Linked DNA regions of Homo sapiens: all the other regions are linked to region 1. The links come from fine-mapping of genetic effects on gene expression. A gene starts in region 1. Each other region holds a variant in brackets. All regions are shown on one strand. Distances are between the middles of the regions.

Evidence for each region. PIP is the estimated chance that this variant, and not a neighbour inherited with it, causes the effect.
Region 2: its variant is the best candidate, but not a certain one, in a credible set for the expression of MEAK7 in whole blood (INTERVAL, PIP 0.54).
Region 3: its variant is the best candidate, but not a certain one, in a credible set for the expression of MEAK7 in monocytes after LPS (Fairfax 2014, PIP 0.71).

Annotation. Positions count from the first base shown.
Region 1 is chr16:84,502,375-84,507,563 of GRCh38, reverse strand. MEAK7 (MTOR associated protein MEAK7) reads left to right here and starts at 2,905. Exons shown (of 8, transcript NM_020947.4): 1 at 2,905-2,963. It overlaps LOC124903736 (a long non-coding RNA gene), which reads right to left and starts at 2,762. Exons shown (of 2, transcript XR_007065149.1): 1 at 2,629-2,762; 2 at 1-218. RefSeq lists enhancers at 1-317, 2,445-2,564, 1,927-2,874, 2,995-3,495 and silencers at 590-826, 810-929, 3,115-3,164.
Region 2 is chr16:84,567,486-84,575,841 of GRCh38, reverse strand. The region is part of intron 3 of COTL1 (coactosin like F-actin binding protein 1); the gene reads left to right. Among named protein-coding and RNA genes, the nearest start is that of COTL1, 46 kb to the left of the region's middle. RefSeq lists an enhancer at 2,987-3,519. The variant T/A (reference allele first, on the strand shown) is at 2,090.
Region 3 is chr16:84,470,792-84,476,633 of GRCh38, reverse strand. It overlaps MEAK7 (MTOR associated protein MEAK7), which reads left to right. Exons shown (of 8, transcript NM_020947.4): 8 at 1-279. Among named protein-coding and RNA genes, the nearest start is that of ATP2C2-AS1, 6.4 kb to the right of the region's middle. The variant TAGTG/G (reference allele first, on the strand shown) is at 2,492.

The DNA.
Region 1 (5,189 bases):
AGAATAAATTCAATAAAATGAACTCGACTTCCTCTACTGCACAAGTCAGCCGTGGCTTCCGGCTCCATGCTGGCGGCACAGATGGATCGTTGCCCGCCTCACCGAGTGCTGCTGGAGGCTGCTGGTGGTGCCTCCTCAGGGCACGGCTGCTCCTGCGTTTGCTGCTTGGTGGTGGCCTCCTAACAGCCTGGCCCAGAAGGTGGTCCATGCAGCCCAAACTTGGGTTCCAGAGATGGGGAGTCGGGGGCAAGGAGCACATGGGGAAGAGAGAGTGGATGCTCAGCCACAATGGGGGCCCGGTGGTGGCTCAGCCTTTCTGTGGAGGTGTCAAAGCTGGACATGGAAAATTGGGCAGGGATGTCGCTAGCAGAGGCACCGCTGTGGATGGCAGGACCAGCCTGGTCAGGACCTCTGGGAGCCAAGGAGAGTTCAGTGCCCAAAGTCAGCATAAAAAACAGAAGCTGGTGCCCCGGGGGCAGTTGGACAGCCCATGGACATCCCCGGGAGCACCAGCTTGTTGAAATAGCATGATGTATATTTTTAAAAGAGTCTCACTTTATATGCAAAATGTCAAGCAATATAAATCTCTTATTTAAAAAAATTGAGAATACCAGGGGCGGTGGCTCATGCCTGTAATCCCAGCATTTTGGGAGGCCGAGGTGGGTGGATTACCTAAGGTCAGGAGTTCGAGACCAGCCTGGCCAACGTGGTGAAACCCCGTCTCTACTAAAAATATAAAAATTAACTGGGTGTGGTGGCCTATGCCTGTAATCCCAGCTACTCGGGAGGCTGAGGCAGGAGAATTGCTTGAACCTGGGAGGTGGAGGCTGCAGTGAGCCGAGATTGCGCCATTGCACTCCAGCCTGGGCAACAAGAGTGAAACTCCATCAAAAACAGAAACTTTCCAACCAGGCAGGTGGGCAGATTGGAGTGTAGGCTGTTTCTGGAGGGTATGGCCACGAGGTGGCGCCACTTCGGTAGCTCTCAAACGGCGCCGCTCCGCATTTGCTTCTGTGGTTTTCTGGGGGATTTTGTTTCACCGTTTTAATAACAAGATCTCACTTTCCTGCCCAGGCTGGAGTGCAGTGGTGCAATCACGGCTCACTGCAGTCTCGCCCTCTGAGGCTCAAGCGATCCTCCTGCCTCGGCTCCCTGAGTAGCTGGGACTACGGGTGTGCCATACCACGCCCGGCCAAGCTTTTCATTTTTTGTAGAGATGGAGTCTCACTATGTTGCCCAGGCTGACACATCGGCTCCGGTTTGCTCCTGCGGACCCCCCAGTACCTGCACCTGAGAGGCCACCATTGCTGTCCACCCTTGGTGTGCCTCAGCCTACAAAAAACTGTTGCTATGTCAAAAATGCCACTACCTCGGATGGCACTGAAAAAGACACACCTGGTTGATGTGTGCAGGAAGTACAGGGGTGTGAAGGCTGGAAACAGGGTCTAGTCCTTCATGTCTAAAGGCCCGTGTGTCTTGGGCATCAGGAGCCCTGGCTGCAGGTGACAGGCACCTACTCTAAGAAGCCGAGGTGAAGAGCTGGGGCTACTCGTGTCATTGGCATCCACAGCTGGGGGTACCCTGGCTGTAGATGCGTTAGTTTGTGGAGCTGCTTCTCCTGGGACATTGGCCTTGGATCTCAGAGCAATGTCTTGGTGAGGGGCCCTACCTTGTGCACTGTCACCAGCCAGGCCTGCTGCCCTCAGGCAGAAAGCCTTCTATTTTTGTTCCAGCTTAAAGAATAAGAGGTGACCAGCCGGGTGCAGTGGCTAACCCCTACAATTCTAGCACTGTGGGAGGCCGAGGCAGGCAGATCACCTGAGGTCAGGAGTTCGAGACCAACTCAAGCGGACGTTGGCGGGCGAAGTCACGGTTTTCCAGGCTGGAAAACCAGCAGGCCGTGCAGGGGAGAGAACTGGTACCATGGACATGCGGGAGCTGAATCTGCAGGAAGGTGGACCCCAGGGAGGATGCGTGGGGTGGAGAGAGTAGGGAGAAGTCGAGAAACTCCAGGGCAGAAGCCAGAAGGGCCCAGGGAAGACCACCAGGGACAGCGAGCGAGCCAGGGCCAGGAATGGGCGCCGGGGTGCCCAAGAGAGAGGTCTGATGAGAGCACGATCACCAAGCGCCAAATGCTGCCTGCGAGGACCCAAAGCGCACCTCGGATGTAGTGAGCAGGCCCCCGGGACCAGGTTTCGGTGGGTTTGAGAAGGAACGAGCTGAAGAAGTGGGGTGACAGGTTCAGACGTCTTGGAGTGAACGGGAACCGGCTGAAGAGGCGCACGTGGGGTGGAGGGAGTCTGTTTAGCCAGGCTGTGGAGCTGGCGCCTGATGGCTGCCGGGAAGGACCTGGTGCCAGGGAAGAGCGAGGCAGGGGCAGCTGGCAGAGGGAGGCCCGAGGGGAGGCGGACCCGAGGCTCTAGGCCAGGACCAGCAGGCCGGGGAGTCAGGGGAGAGTTGCCTGGGGCCCAGGAGGCTGCACTGCAGAGGCCTCTGCATGGGCTCCACATGGGCCACTCTCCTCCCCCGGGTGTCTTCACCCCCAAGCTCAGCCTCTCCCCCAGGATCTCCCACACCCTGGCTACTCCGCTCCAGCGCCCAGCCCAGACACCCCTTCTCCCCAGGTACCACTGCTGGCCTGGCCTGGCCTGAGTCATTGGCCGCCCTCTCCAGGCGCCTCCTTGGTACGCACGCAGCCGGGCCGGATTCCCGGGCCTGCAGCCGCTCCTCCCGCAGACCGCGGCCCCGCCCCGAGCCGCACCCACCGGGTTCGGCTCACTCCCTGTGAGGCGCGTCACCATTGGCTGACTCCTCTCTTGGGTTCCGCCCCACACCTCCGCTTCCACGATTGGACCAAATGACTGCCCCTCAGCAATGTTGCCTGGCAACAGGGAAGGGGCGGCTCTCGAGAGGAGCCCGTGGGCTGCTGGACCGGACCGGACAGCACCAGGAAGCCCGGCAGGGTAGGTACCTGGGCTGAGGTTCGCAGTGAGCTGACCCAGAGGCGCAGGCCCAGCTGAGTCGGGGGACTGGAGCAGACGGGTCCAGAGTAGGCCTGGGCCCTGCCCCTCCCTGGCCTCCCACGCCTCTTCAGGCCCTCGGGTCGGGGGAGGGAGAGGTGAAGGCTGCGGGGAGGTGAGGGGTGGGGACAGCGGGGCGGGATGGAGGGAGGGTCTCCTGGGGGGGATCAGAATCATCCTGCACCTCCCGCTGTTTATGTGGTCAAGGTAAGAGGGTGGCGAGGTGCTTCCCCCAGGGCCAAGGCCAGCCGTGTTGAAGGGGGATTCAGAGCCTGTGTAGACGCGGAAAGGGAGGGGTGCCTCCACGGAGGAGGCGAGTCTGGGGTAGACACTGAAGTGTGTGTGGAGGGGGTTTTCCTTCTTGTATTCTGACCACACCCATCTGGGCTTTTCCAGGACAGTGAGCTGATAACTGTTCCCAGGCCATGTAGGTGGCCAGCACAGGACAGGTCACCTTCTGGCCCACAGGAACTTCTTGCCCAGGCTCAAGCTGCCCCTTCGCACAAGGGCCTCTGGGCTCTGAGACACAGACAGGACTTCGAAGCCTGTCCAGATGAGGCAGTTGGAATCTCCCCAGCTTGTGGGGGTACGGAGGGACCCTTGTGTGGCTCTAGGGATGCGGGGCCCTTGGAGTAGAGAGTTGGAGCTTGGCAGCCAGGGTGGGAAGCAGCCATGTAACAGCCTGTTGGAGAAGCTCTGAGCAGGAGGTGACTAAGCCATTCCTAGGATACTAGTGGGAACCTTGGGGGCCATCCTGCAGACAATCGGTCCCTGTCCACCCCTCCATCACGGAGGCAGAGCAACCTTCCGTTTCTTCCAAGCAGGGCAGTTTCTCTTGTTCTAAGACAAGATCCCAAGGAGCCATTCTCTGTTGTCTTGGGCCCATTATTCTGTCTCTGACCTCCAGTAAGCAGATCAAATGCCCTGGGTTACCTTATTTAATCTTCTCAACCTTATGTTAAAGAAATTAATTAATGATGCTTATTAAAAGCACATTAATTATTGAAGACCATTGCAATGGGTATAGGGACCACAGCAATGGGATTTTGTAGTAAAGGAGAGAGATTGGGCTCAACTCTGATTATAGCATGGGCAAGTGGGAAGCCAGGAAGCAGGGTGGGGATCAGTGGATGGAAGATGACTGAGGAAACATCAGGGCGCTAGGGTGGATTCTGGGTAAGCTTACCTAGCAGTTTGTTACTGAAGGCAGGCCAGGGTGATCAGACATCACCTAGGGCAAGCTCGTCCAACCCGTGGGCCATATGTGGCCTAAGGCGGCTTTGAATGACATCCAACACAAATTCATAAGCTTTCTTAAAACATGAGATTTTTTTTTTACCATATATGTAGATATATGCACTTATCAGTTATTGTTAGTGGGTTTTATGTGTGGCCCAAGACAGTTCTTCCAGTGTGGCCCAGGGAAACTGAAAGATTGGATATCCCTAACCTAAGCATTAAACCTGGTTAGATAGCAAGTGAACAGATAATGGTGATCAAATATCAAGGATGAGTGGTTTTGTGGGTTTTTTTGTTTGTTTGTTTTTTGTTTTGCTAAAACCAGATTTTACAAAGAGGTACACAGATGGGCCCAGGAGCCTGACTAAAGTCTGGTCAAGCAAAACATCTTGGTCACTTATTATGGGCTGCTGGAACTTTTGTTTGTGTTTTTATGAGACAGAGTCTTGCTCTGTCACCCAGGCTGGAGTGCACTGTTGTGATCTTGGCTCACTGCGACCTCTGCCTCCTGGTTCAAGCGATCTTCCCACCTCAGCCTCCTGAATAGCTGGAACTATAGTCACACGCCACCACACCCGGCTGAGGTTTGTATTTTTGGCAGAGACGAAGTCTCACTATGTTGCCCAGGCTGGTCTCAAACTCCTGGCCTCAAATGATCCTCCCAAAGTTCTGGGATTATAGGCTTGATGATGGAAAGCTTTCAGTCCCTGGCAAGTTTTCTCGGTGTCATGGGACTTTCACAGTACACCTGGGTACATGGGGTGGCCTCTTCTCTGCAAAGCTGTGCATAACACAACCCTACATTGGCCTCGAGACTTCTGTGGGTTCCCTTGTATCAAGTTCCGCTTCCATTTTGTTCCGCTGCCCTACATCCTCAGAAGCCAGGTTTTCTCACCTTCAGCCCTACCGATGTCTGGGACGGACACTTCC
Region 2 (8,356 bases), 67 kb before region 1:
AAGCTGCTATTGTCCGCATTTGCAGATGAGGAGACTCAGGCTCAGGGAGGTTGAGTCCCCAGGGAGGCTCAGGCCACTGGAGATGCCTGTGGACAAGGGTGCCTGTTTGTATTTGGCCTGGACCTGCTCCCAGCATGCTGGGGTTTAAACCTGGGCAGTTGGGAGCCATTAAAAAATGAAAAGGGGTCAGGTGTGGTGGCTCATGCCTGTGATCCCAGCACTTTGGGAGGCCAAGGGGGGGAGATCACTTGAGGCCAGGAGTTCGAGACCAGTCTGGCCAACATGATGAAACCCTGTCTCTAATAAAAATACAAAAATGAGCCGGCCGTGGTGGTACGTGCCTGTAATCCCAGCTACTTCAGAGGCTGAGGCAGGAGAATTGCTTGAACCTGGAAGTGGAGGTTGTGCTGAGCTGAGATTGCACCACTGCACTCCAGTCTGGGCGACAGAGTGAGACTCCGTCTCAAAAAATGAAAATAAATAAAAATAAAAATGAAAAGGATGGGCTGGGCGTGGTGACTCACCCCTGTAATCCCAGCACTTTGGGAGGCTGAGGCGAGTGGATCACCTGAGGTCCGGAGTTCAAGACCAGCCTGGCCAACATGGTGAAACCCCGTCTCTACTAAAAATACAAAAGTTAGCCAGGTGTGATGGTGGGCGCCTGTAATTCCAGCTACTCGAGAGGCTGAGGCAGGAGAATCGCTTGAACCCGGGAGGTGGAGGTTACAGTGAACTGAGATTGCACCACTGCACTCCAGCCTAGGTGACAAGAACAAAAACTTCATCTCAAAAGATAAATAAATAAATGAGAAAAGAATGATTTAAAACCAAGACAGGAGAACATGCACTTTAAAATCCAGCGTGGCAAATAGATGGCTAGACTCTGTACAGAGCCCCTGTACCTAACCCGTACCCTCTGCTATATTACCCTCCTCAGAAAGGTGGAGACAGGTTTCAATGGATGTTTATTTTGCATCTTTGAGGCATGAATCTATAAGCACTTGAGAAAGGTCACAGGGACAAAACTTGTCTTCATTCATGACCAGCCTGGCCAACATGGTGAAACCCCGTCTCTACTAAAAATACAAAAATTAGCCAGGCGTGGTGGTGGTTGTCTGTAATCCCAGCTACTCAGGAGGTAGAGGCAGGAGAATCACTTGAACCCGGGAGGCAGAGGTTGCAGTGAGCCGATCGCACTATTGCACTCCAGCCTGGGCAACAGAGTGAGAGTCCGTCTCAGAAAAAACAAAAACAAAAAAACTGGTCTTCCACTTGCTGGTTGCATAATTCCAAACCATTCAAGCAGCTTCAGCCGCTTGGAGTGAGACTTCGTCGGATGAGGCCCTTGGAAGAAAATCCTGCTTTGGCAAGAAAAGAGAAGTCCCCCGTCTGGCAGCTATGAGAGAGCGACACCGAGTTCCCAGACAAAACAAAGAGCTTTCTTCAGCCACAGGTGACGGTGCCCCCAGACTGACACATGTTGCTGTGCAGTCTCTGGCAGGTTGTGGCAGCTGCCTCGAGGGCTTGGCAGTCTAGAGCAGCCCCTGGAGGCGGGATGTGGGGAGAAAGTGGGGCTGGCACCAGGAACGCATCCCCAGGGCCCTGCCGGGAAGTTGCTGTGTCCCCTGGGATGAACTGCGTCCCCTCTCTGGGTTGTTGCTGGTCCTCTACATAATGAAGAGGTGAATGGCAGGTCTCAAGGGTGGAGTGCAGTGGTGCGATCATGGCTCACGGCAGCCTCGACCTCCCAGGCTCAAGTGATCTTCCTGCCTCAGCCTCCCAAGTAGCTGGGACAACAGGCGCACACCACCACTGTTGGCTATTTATTACTATTATTATTATTATTATTTGTAGAGAAAGGGTCCCACTGTTCCCCAGGCTAGTCTTGGAACTCCGGGGTTCAAGCGATTCTCCCTTCTCGACCTCCCAAAGTGCTTGGGATTACCGGCGTGAGCCACAGCGCCCCACCTCCCTTCACTATTTTGTTCAGCTGAAACACAATTTACATAGAGTAAAACGCAGAGATCTTCGGAATACTACTCGTTGAGTGTGTGTGTGTGTGTGTGTGTGTGTATGTATATATATATAT[T/A]TTTTTTTTTTTGAGACAGAGTTTCGCTCTTGTCACCCAGGCTGGAGTGCAATGGTGCGATCTAAGCTCACTGCAACTTCCGCCTCCCCGGTTCAAGCGATTCTCCCGCCTCTCACACCCAGCTAATTCTTTGTATTTTTAGTAGAGATGGGGTTTCACCATGTTGGCCAGGCTGGCCTTGAACTGCTGACCTCAGGTGATCCACTCACCTCGGCCTCCCAAAGTGCTGGGCATGAGCCACTGCATCTGGCCCAAGTTTTGTGTATTTTGAATGTTCATGATGCATACCTTTGAAGCCACCACCCAGATCTGGACATGGCGCAGATGTCCACCCCTGTCGGATGGGCTCTAATGCTCTGCGATTCATGATTCTGTTTGCCTGATCACATTATTCTTTCAGACGCTTTCGTGTTCTGTCTAGACCTGCGCTGTTGCTGGCCACGTGTGGCCACTGAGCGCCTGAAAGCGCACCCAGCCATATCAGTGTGTGCCGTATACCCGGAGGGCACACAGCGTTTCTAAGGCTGGGTTCAAAAGAAATGAATGTAAAGGACCTCGTCAGTACCTTTTAGCATTGATTACATTGTGGAAATGACAATATTTTGCATATATTGGATTAGATAAAATACTATTAAAATAAATGGCACTGGTTTCTTTCTTACATTTTTCAATGTGGCTAGTAGCAAATTGAAAATTCCCGGCCAGGCAAAGTGGCTCACGCCTGTAATTCTAGCACTTTGGGAGGCCGAGGTCAGTGGATCACTTCATCTCAGGAGTTTGAGACCAGCCTGGGCAACATGGTAAAACCCCATTATCTACCAAAAAAAAAAAAATTAGTCGGGCATGGTGGTGTGTACCTGTAGTCCCGGCTACTTCGGTGGCTGAGGTGGTAGGATTGCTTGAGCACAGGCGGTGGAGGTTGCAGTGAGCTGAGATTGCACCAGTGCCCTCCAGCCTGGCAGCGTGGGTGACAGAGTGAGACCTGTCTAAGAAAAAAAAGGAAAGAAAGAAAATTCAAAATTCTGGCCTTTGGGAGGCCAAGATGGGTGGATCGCTTGAGCCCAGGAGTTGGAGACCAGCCTGGGCAACATGACGAAACCACGTCTCTACAGAAAAATACAAAAATCAGCTGGACGTGGTGGCTTGTGCCTGTATTTCTAGCTATTAGGAAGGCGGAGGTGGGAGGATCGCTTGAACCTAGGAGGTTGAGCCTGCAGTGAGCCGAGATCGCACCACTGCACGCCAGCTTGGGTGACAGAGTGAGACTGTGTTTCAAAAAAAGAGAAATTAACATTCTGTGTGTGTCCGCATTGCTCTAGGCCCTGGAAGTCTCCTTCTGATGAAGGACTTGCCTCCTGAGTCTTGCCACCTGCCCCTGCCCCCGTGGGTGTTGGTGGCATGTGGGTGCTGGCAAGTGCTGTGTCTTGAGGTGTGTGTGGTGTAGGGGTGGCCACGCTTTGCATGCATATGTTCCCTCTGGTTTCCAGCCTCAGGTGCAAGGCAGACTTCAGCTGCTCCACGCAGGCTCCCTCCAGTTTCAGGCATTGCTCCCAAGTCAGAGTCTGTCTGCCCAGAGCTGTTTTGCTCAGCTTCTGCCTCGTTTTGAAAACATGCAATGAAGCCCACTCCCCAGTGGTGCTTGCAACTCCCTTATCTCATGGGAGCCGCTGGAAGGCGTGGAGGTGGAGAGGTGTGGAGGTTGTTGTCAGTTGGTTTTTAGGCTGAGGCTCAGGTTAGACATTTTGGGGACATTCTGTGGAGTCCACGCCCTGAATGGAAGGTGCTGGCTCACCTTTGTAAGCCTCTGGGGGCTTGGGAGCACCCCGTGTAGGATGGAGGCCTGCTAGTACCCCCTCCATGCGGCCTGACCACCTGGGCCCCTGCAGAGTTGCTGCTGGCCCTATAGAAGGTGGGAGCGGCTCGGTGTCCACTCAGGAGCAGGCTGGGGTCCAGCTCTGGCTGCAAGGGAACTGACCACTGTTGGTCACAGGCCCGTCTCACCGTCTCACCCATGTGTCCACGTGACGTCCAGGCAATGGGCCCGTGCATGACCAGTCTGCCGGTGAGGTGACAGCGGGGAGCCGATCCCAGGGGGATGATTGGATGGAGATGTAGACACTTTATTTGGAAGGTGCTAGGAGTCACTGCCAGGCTCAAAGAACGGGGAAGGGGTGGACAAGACACAGGAGCAGCACGAGGAGGAGACACAAAGAGGGGAGGGAAGCTGATGGGCAGGGGGGAGAGATGAGCGGACCCAGGTGCAAGGGTGGAGAGCAGTGGGCTGGGGCATGACTGCCGCTTAACCAGCCTCATGGTGTCACTCGCCGAGCCTCAGTTTCCCCTTCTGAATTGAGGGGCAAGAGATGACCTCTAAGGACCACCAACCCTGCTGTCTATGAGGCCATGGTGATACTAAGGCCCAGAGGGAGCCCGGACCTCCAGTGTCCTCCGTCCATCCCTTCTCTCTGCTCGGCTTTGCACTGGCGTGGGCTGCATCGAGTCCCAGGCTGTACACCTTGGCAGTCACGCGGCGGGGGCTCTCGTGTGAGGACGGGAGCAGAGCCAAATGCACCAGCTGTCAGCCAGACTGAAGGTGAAGGGAGCCAACAGGCTCATGTCTGAATACAAGGTCTTCAGCCCACCCCTGGAGGCAGTATGTCAGGATTCTTCCGAACAGAGAATCTGGGGTCTGTTCTAAAGGGGCCTAGAGCATGGCCATGGTCACTGTATCTTCAGAAATGTTTAAAGTTTTGTCTTTCTTGGTCATTGGAAGAGGCAAAAAAGGAAAAAAAAAAAAAGCAGGAATGAGGGAAGACTCAATTTTGCACATTCTCTCTGTGTTCCCCTGAGGATAAATTGGAAACGAAATAGGAATACAGGACTTTTAGGTATGAGCCAGTTCAGTGTGTTAAGACACTTGCTTTCTAACCCTTTGCTTTTTGGCAGTAATCGGATTGCTGGACGACTTGTCTTTTAAGACCTCTCTAAGTACTGATGATAAAAACAGCCCTTCAACAGGGAAAATAACCTTCCATTCTATTTTCTACCGAGCAGAGAGGAAAGAACATCAGCTGAGCCAGGAGGGTTATCAAGTTGCAGGATGACCCTGTTTATCTTGTGAGACTCAGTTTGCTTTAAATGTTTTCAGAGATCATATGGTTGCTTTTGTATATACTTTTGTTTGTATAACTTGGAATCATTTTTCTGCTAATCTTTTGATTTTAAATATGTCTCTGGTATGTAGTACAAGGTTTGAGGGTTTTTTTTTTGTAGTTTGAAACATAGCATTTTTAAAGATAATTTTGTTCATTTACATTTATTGTTATGTTTTACTAGATCTGCTGTCTGTTTTGCTTGTTTTTGTTTCATTATAATTTGATTTCCTAAGTACTTGTGGTTTTAGGTTGACCTGTGCCTAGCTCCATGTATCTTTCATTTGAGATTTCTTAGACCTTATCAAACTTATTTTTCTTTTTTTGAGATGGAATCTCGCTCTGTTGCCAGGCTGGAGTGCAGTGGCGCCATCTTGGCTCACTGCCATTTCTGCCTCCCAGGTTCAAGCCATTCTCCTGCCTTAGCCTCCTGAGTAGCTGGGATTACAGGCTCGCGCCACTACACCCAGCTGATTTTTATATTTTTAGTAGATTAGGGTTTTCACCGTGTTGGCCAGGCTGGTCTCGATCTCCTGACCTCATGATCTGCTCTCCTCAGCCTCCCAAAGTGCTGGGATTACAGGCATGAGCCACCATCCATGGCTCTCAAACTTATTTTTCTTAATCTAAATCTTCTAATAGCTAACCGACTGGAACTTCAAGTGTTCTTATTTCTGTAGATTGCCATATATAGCTATCACAAAGCAGAGGAACTTTGGACTTTTCTTCTATAAGCATCTTAAGCTGTTGGCTTCCTCCTTCTGAAAGCTCTCTGCCCCTCCCTCATGCCGTGGGGCTCAGGGTTGAGAAATACATTAATTCTCAATTCTCCTTTCTGGCTCTTACATCCAACTTGTGTTCTTTCATTGCACGGATCACATACACTTAGTAACACACTGTAGTGGGGTGGGAACAGAAAGGATCTCAAGGGTGTTCTGTCATTCTGGGCAAATCTCTCCAAGCCCAGCCCATGAGTCTTATCTTCAAAAAGTAAAATAAAATAAAGTTAATATACTGAGGGCTGAACGAGAACATGAGTGAGGCTGTTCCTGGCACACATCAGCTGCTTGATAAAAATTAACCTCCCGTTCTCCACTTTGTTAGTGTTCTCAGTGGCTTTGCGCGCCAAATGCATTGTCTTTTTATTGTAAAGCTTGACTTCGGGATGCTCCTGGGCTCATCATTCTTGGCAATATGGCGACTTTTTTGTTTTTTATTTTTTAATTGTGGTGGAATTCATTTAACATAAAATGAACCTTTTTATGTTTATTTATTTATTTTGAGACAGATCTCACCCTGTCGCCCAGGCTGGAGTGCAGTGGCGCGATCTTGGCTCACTGCAACGTCCGCCTCCCGGGTTCAAGCGATTCTCCTGCCTCAGCCTCCCCAGTAGCTGGGATTGCAGGCGCCCGCCACCACGCCCGGCTGATTTTTGTAGTTTTAGTAGAGATGGGGTTCCGCCATGTTGGCCAGGCTGGTCTCGAACTCCTGACCTCAGGTGATCTGCCTGCCTCGGCCTCCAAAGTGCTGGGATGACGGGCGTGAGCCACCGCACCTGGCCTGAACCATTTTAAAGTGTACAATTCAGTGGCTTTCAGAACATTCACAGTGTTGTGCAAGCCCTACCTCTGTCTGGTTCCAAAACTTTTTCATCACCCCAAAAGGAGATGGTGGCTCTTTCAAGACGCCAGCTTTGGCATCAACTGGACCTTCTGGTTGTCTGACTTCGGACAAGCATTGTAATTTCCAGCCTTTGTTTCCTCACCTTTAAAATGGAAATAATGTTGATCACCTTACGGGCCTTTTTAAAAAGAACTTGATTGAGGTATGATGTATGTACCTCAAAATCAAGTCATCCTAAGTGTACTTTTTCAGTACTTTTTCGTGAATTTGTGGAGTTGTGCACCCATTACCACAATCCCAATTTTAGAACGTCTCTATCATTTCCTGTTCCCATCTCCAGCTCTGTGTAACCACGAGTCTGCTTTCTGTCTGTATGGGTTTGCCTTTTTTAGACATTTATACCAATGGCAGCTGACAGTACATGGTCTTCATGCCTGGCTTCTTTCACTCAGCATCCTGTTTCCGAGGTTCATCCATGTAGTTGCGTGTGGCAGCGCTTCATTCCTCTCTGTGGCTGAGGAATATTCCATTGTGTGGACGGACCGTGTTTTGATAATCCACTCCTCTGTTGATGGACATAGGGGTTGCTTCCACCTTCCATGATTCATATTTACTACTGTGTGTCATTCTCAGTACTGTGGCACTGTGCTGGTACACATAAGTGCTTAATAATTGTGGTTAGCCGGGCGTGGTGGCTCACGCCTGTAGTGCCAACACCTTGGGAGGCCAAGCTGGGCGGATCACTTAAGGCCAGGAGTTTGAGACCAGCCTGGCCAATGTGGCGAAACCCTGCTTCTACTAAAAATACAAAAAATAGCTGGGTGTGGTGGCAGACGCCTGTAGTTCGAGCTACTTGGGAGGCTGAGACATGAGAATGGCTTGAACCCTGGGGGCAGAGGTTGCTGTGAGCCAAGATTGCGCCACTGCACTCCAGCCTGGGCAACAGGCTTTTCTCTCAAGAAAAAGAAAAATGGTGGTCATTGTTTATGTTATTTCCTTATGGGCTTTTTTTTTTAATGTGGATGATTTTCTTACCTTTAGACGTGTTATTTGTGGTTTTGATAGCTTTTTTTTGTCAAGCTGTCCGTCATCGTTCTGAAATTTTGTTTGTTAAAGTCTTATGATCCACATATGGCAGTAACTGTGTATCATCATGGCTTAAGGGTGTCTGATAAGCCAGGTCACCTGGTTCCCTCATTCATGCCACAAGCGTTTACTGAGTGCATCATGGGTGCCTGCGGGTTCTATGGGTGAAACCTGTGTACTGCAAGAGGAAAGACTGACTGCATCCATTTTGCTGAGCCCTGTAGCCCCACAGCCTGGCGTGGTATTTGTTGAAAGAAGGCAGAGCCTCTACCCTCGTGTAACTCAGTGCGGGTGGAGAGCCCATGGCAGACCCAGGACTGGAGGCTCCTGCGTCATTAGGAACATTGGTGGCTGAAGCTTGCTTGTCCCAGCTGGCGAGAGCCAATTACGCCTGTCTCCTTCCACC
Region 3 (5,842 bases), 31 kb after region 1:
TGGATGCTCTCGGGCCTAGCGTTCCACCGTCTGCAGCTGGGGAACATTTTGTTTGCAGCTAATCATTGTCATGAATATCGTTTATGTGTGCCTTGCTGTGATGGTGTCTGTGGGATAAACTCTTAGAATTGGAATTGTTGGATTGAGAGGTATATGCCTTTTATTTAGATATAGATGAATTAAAAAAACCTCTTGAGCTCAATTTATACTCAATATACCGGGGTGCCTGTTTGCCATGTTTTCAGCAAAACTGTATTAAAATATGTTTTTTTAACCTGATAGACAAAAACTATATTTTGTTGATATAATATTTACATACTTATGGGGTACATGTATTTGCTACATGTGTAGACTGTGTAATGATCAAGTGAGGGTATTTAGGGGTGTCCGTCAACTTGAGTATCCTTTCCACATTCCAAGCATTGCAAGTCTTCCCTTATGTCTACTGTGAAATACACAGTGCATTGTTGCCGACTCTGGTCACCCAGTGCTGCTATAGAACATGAGAACTTATCTCTTCTAACTGTATGTTTGTACCCCCTTGTGGGGCACCCGGTTCTGTTGCTGTTTGGGGTGCAACTAAGTAATCCTCATGGACCTAGGGGGACCGAACAAAGGGGGCGAACATGGGAATAAAAGACAAGAGACAAAAGAGTATGTTTGGAAGAAGGGGTCAGGGGGCACCTTGCCTCTAGTGGACAAGGGCCCTGAACTTTACACAGCCCTCCGTATTTGTTATGCAAAAGACATAGTGAGAAGGGGGGTGGAAGAAGGGGTCAGCTGCTCAGTCCGGAGTAGGCTTGCAAGACTGCATTCCTCAAACAACAGGCTCTAGATGTCGCAGTAGATAACCTTGGTGACAGGGAGTGATGGCCTCCAGCAAACCTGTTGGCAGGAGCAGTCATGAGTTTGCCCACATCCTGCATTCATGATAAACAGTTTGCTGTTTGATCACACAGCCTCCAGTGGAATGCTGAGTTGGTCACGTCCCACGGGCCTTCGGCTCCCTGCACCCACTAGCCGACATCTCTTGCTCCCTCCCTCCCACTCATATATCCTTCCCATCCTCTAGTATCTATCGTTCTTTTCTCTACCTCCATGAGATCCACTTTTTTTTTTTTTTAGCTGACATACATCAGTGAGAACATGCAGAATTTGTCTTTCTGTGTCTGCCTTTTTCACTGAACATAATGACCTCCAGTACCATCCATGTTGTTGCAAATGACATGATTTCACTTTTTATGGCCAAATAATATTCCATCGTGTATATATACTCTTCCTTTTTTAAAAAATTAAGTTCCAGGGTACATGTGCAGGATGTGCAGATTTGTTACATAGGTAAATGTGTGCCATGGTGGTTTGCTGAACCTATCAACCCATCACCTACGTATTAAGCCCAGCATGCGTTAGCTATTTTTCCTAATCCTCTCCCTCCCGCAGCCCTACCACCAACAGGCCCCAGTCTGTGTTTTTCCCCTCCCTGCATCCATGTGTTCTTACTGTTCAGCTTCCACTTATAAGTGAGAACATGCAGTGTTTGGTTTTCTCTTCCTGTGCCAGTTTGCTGAGGGTAATGGCTCCCAGCTCCATCCATGTTCCTGCAAAGGACATGATCTCATTCTTTTTGATGGCTACTTAGTATTCCATGGTATATATGTGCCACATTTTTAAAATCCAGTCTATCACTAATGGGCATTTGGGTTGATACCATGTCTTTGTTATTGTGAATAGCGCTGCCGTGAACATATGTGTGCATGTATCTTTGTAACATATGATTTATATTCCTTTGGGTATGTACCTAGTAATGGGATTGCTGCGTCCAGTGGTATTTCTGATTCTAGATCTTTGAGGAATCGCCACACTGTCTTCCACAATGGTTGAACTAATTTACATTACCACCAACAGTGGAAGAGCGTTCCTGTTTTTTCTTTTTTTTTTTTTTTTTTCTTGAGACGGAGTCTCACTCTGTTGCCCAGGCTGGAGTGCAGTGGCGTGACCTCCGCTCACTGCAAGCTCCACCTCCCCGGTTCACGCCATTCTCCTGCCTCAGCCTCCCGAGTAGCTGGGACTACAGGCGCCCGCCACCACGCCCGGCTAATTTTTTTGTATTTTTAGTAGGGACAGAGTTTCACCGTGTTAGCCAGGATGGTCTCGATCTCCTGACCTTGTGATCCGTCCACCTCAGCCTCCCAAAATGCTGGGATTACAGGCGTGAGCCACTGCGCCCAGCCGCGTTCCTGTTTTTCTACGATCTCATCAGCATCTATTGTTTCTTGACATTTTAATAATTGCCATGCTGACTGGCATGAGAGGGTATATACCGCGTTTTCTTTATCCGTTCATCCATTGGTGGATGTTTAGGTTGTGTCTACATCTTTGCTATTGCGAATAGTGCTGCAGTAAATGTCGGCATGCAGATATCCCTTGGACACACTGATTCTTTTCCTTTGAATAAATACTCAGTAGTGGGATTGCTGGATTGGATGATAGT[TAGTG/G]ATGTTGAGCTCTTTTTTTTTTTTTCTTATAGCTGTTGGCCATTATATGTCTTCTTTTGAGAAATGTCTATTCATGTCCTTTGTCTACTTTTTAATGGGATTGTTTATTTTTAAATTGTTGGGTTCGTGAATTGTTTTCCCTGTTTTCTTCTAGTAGTTTTATAGTTTTGGGTCTTACATTTAAATCTTTAATTCGTCTTCATCTGGTTTTTGTAGATGGTGAGAGGTAGGGTTTCATTCTTCTGCATATGGATATCCAATTATCCCAGCACCATTTATTGAAGACACTGTCCTTACCCCAGTGTATGTTTTTGGCAACTTTGTTGAACATAAGTTGGCTATAGATATGTAGACTTATTTCTGGTTTCTCTATTCTGTTCCATTGGTCCATGTGTCTCTTTTTAAATTTTTTTTAAAGCAATACCATGCTATTTTGGTTACTATAGCCCTGTAATAGATTTTGAAGTGAGGTGGTATGCTGCCTGCAACCTTGTTCTTTTTGCTCAGGATTGCTTAGGCTACTTGGGCTCTCTTTTGGTTCCATATGAACTTTAGGATTTGTTTTTAATTTTGTGAAAAATGACATATTTTGATAGGGATGGCATTGAATCTCTAGATGGCTTTGGGCAGTACGGTCATTTTAATGGTATTAGTTCTGATCCATGAGCATGGGATGTTTTCCATTTGTTTGTGTCCTCTTCAATGTCTTTCATTAGTGCTTTGTAGTTTTCCTTGTATAGATCTTTTACTTCTTGGTTAAATTTATTCCTAGGTTTTTTTTTTTTTTTTTTGTAGTAATTGTCAATGGGGTTATTGTCTTGAATTATTTCTCAGATATTCCATTATCTGTATGTAGAAACACTACTGATTTCTGTATGTTGATTTTGTATCCTGTAACTTTACTGAATTTATGAGATCTAATAGTTTTTTGATGGAGTCTTTCTAGATACAGGATCATATCATCAGCAAAAAGGGACAATTTGAGTTCCTCTTTGCCAGTTGGGATGCTTTTTATTTCTTTCTCTTGCCTGATTGCTCTGGCCAGGACTTCCAATATTATGTTGCATAGGAGTGGTAAAAGTGGGCATCCTTGTCTTGTTCCAGTTCTTAGAGGAAAGGCTTTCAGCTTTTCCCCATTCAGGATGATGTCAGCTGTGGGTTTGTCATATATGGTCTTGATTATGTTGAGGTATGTCCCTTCTGTCTGGTTTGTTGACAGTTTTTTTTCAGGAAGGAATGTCGTGTTTTATCAAATGCTTTTTCTGCATCAGTTTACTAATTGCTTATATCTGATCATATGGTTTTTGTCCTTCATTCTATTAATGTGATGTATCACATTTATTGATTTCTGTATGTTGAACCATCCTTGCATAAGTGGGATAAATCTCACTTTATTGTGGTGTATTATTTTTGTTTTGTTTTGCTTTTTGAGATGGAATATTGCTTTGTCGCTCAGGCTGGAGTGCAGTGGCAGAATGTCGACTCACTGCAACCTCTGCCTGCTATGTTCAAGCAATTCTCCTGCCTCAGCCTCCCAAGTAGTGGGGATTACAGGCACCCACCCCCACACCTGGCTAATATTTGTATTTTTACTAGAGACAGGGTTTCACCATGTTGGCCAGGCTGGTCTCGAACTCCAGGCTTCAAGTGATCCACCCGCCTTGACCTCCCAAAGTGCTGGGATTACAGGCGTGAGCTACCACACCCGGCCTGTTTTCTTTTTTTCTTTTTTTCTTTTTTTTTTTTGATGTGCTGTTGGATTCAGTTTGCTAGTGTTTTGTTGAGGATAGCTTGCTTGGATGCTAAATGGCAGCAGTGGGCCAGGTGGCTGGGCTCTTGGGCCCCTGGGCAGCCAGTGTGGCATAGGAGATGGTAGTGGCAGTGGCAATGGCAGGGTAACCCTCTGGGTCCCTAGTAGTGTACCTGGTAGTGGTGGTGGCTGTGATGAGCTGGGTGGGCCAGTCTCCAGGCCCACAGGTGGCACGTGCATGTAGATGCCAACTAGTGCAGGTAGTGGCAGGGTGGGTGAACCCACCCTCAGCAGTCTGAGAGGAGTGCTCAGGTACCAATAGTGGTGGCCTCGGCTGGGCCGTCCCCAGTCATCTAGACTGTGTGTTCCAGCATAGGGTGTGTGTATTAGTCCGTTCTCATATGCTGCTAATAAAGACATATCTGAGCCTGGATAATTTCTAAAGGAAAGACGTTTAATTGGCTCACAGTTCAGCATGGCTAGGGAGGCCTCAGGAAACTTACAATCATGGCGGAAGGGGAAGCAAACATGTCCTTCTTCACATGATGGTAGGAAGGAGAAGTGCAGAGCAAAGCAGGAGCAAAGCCCCTTATAAAACCATCAGATCGTGTCAGAACTCACTATCATGAAAACAGCATGGAGGTAACTACCCCCATGATTCAATTACCTCCCCCACCCGGCTCCCTCCCATGACACGTGGAGATTATGGGAAGTACAAGATGAGATTTGGGTGGGGTCACAGCCAAGCCATATCAGCATGTGCGGCAAAGCCAGGCTGGGCGGGCTTGTCTGAGGTCCCTCCATGGCATACGCAGGCATTTTCTGTGGTAGCTGGGGAGGGGGCAGTCCCCAGGCCTCTGGTGGAATGCTTGGGTGGGAGGTAACAGCAGTTGTGCTGTGACCTTGCCACTGGGGAGGGTGAGGCTGCTTTCAGTGGCAGCAGCCCATGCCAGTGAGTGGGAACACGCACCCCACTTGCACCTTGGCAGTGGCAGCCCGCACTTTGCTGTGCCTCTGCCCTGGTGCTGCTGAGCCCCAGGCTGGTGTGCAGTCTCTTGTGGGCTGGGCTCCCATATGGTGTCTTGCTCAAAACTGTACTGTTTAAATTTTTCTACCAAGTGACAGTGAACAGCCTCATTTTTCAAAAGCTTTCTGTATCATATCTTTTTCTTGGTTTTCTAGGGTGTCGGTCTTTTTCTTATCGATTTGTAACAGTGCTTTTAAAAAATAAAATAGAAATGAGGTCTCAATATGTTGCCCAAGCTGGTCTTGAACTCCTGAACTCAAGGGATCCTCCTGCCTCAGCCTCCGAAAGTGCTGGGATTACAGGTGCAAGCCACCACACCCGGCCAACAGTGCTTTTTATGAATGAAGTAGCATTTCCCATGTATGGTCAATGTTTTCTACGGTTTATTTGACTTCGTTTGTGGCGTTTTTCTGCCCATAAATTTTACAGTTTCTGTCATATTTCCCAGCATTTCTGCTTAAGGGTCTTTGGATTTGCCGTTTGTTTAGGCAGTCTGTCTCTACTCTGAGTATTAAAAATCATTTTCTTCTACTGTGGTTTCTGTTTTTACCTCTTAAATCTTTTATCTAT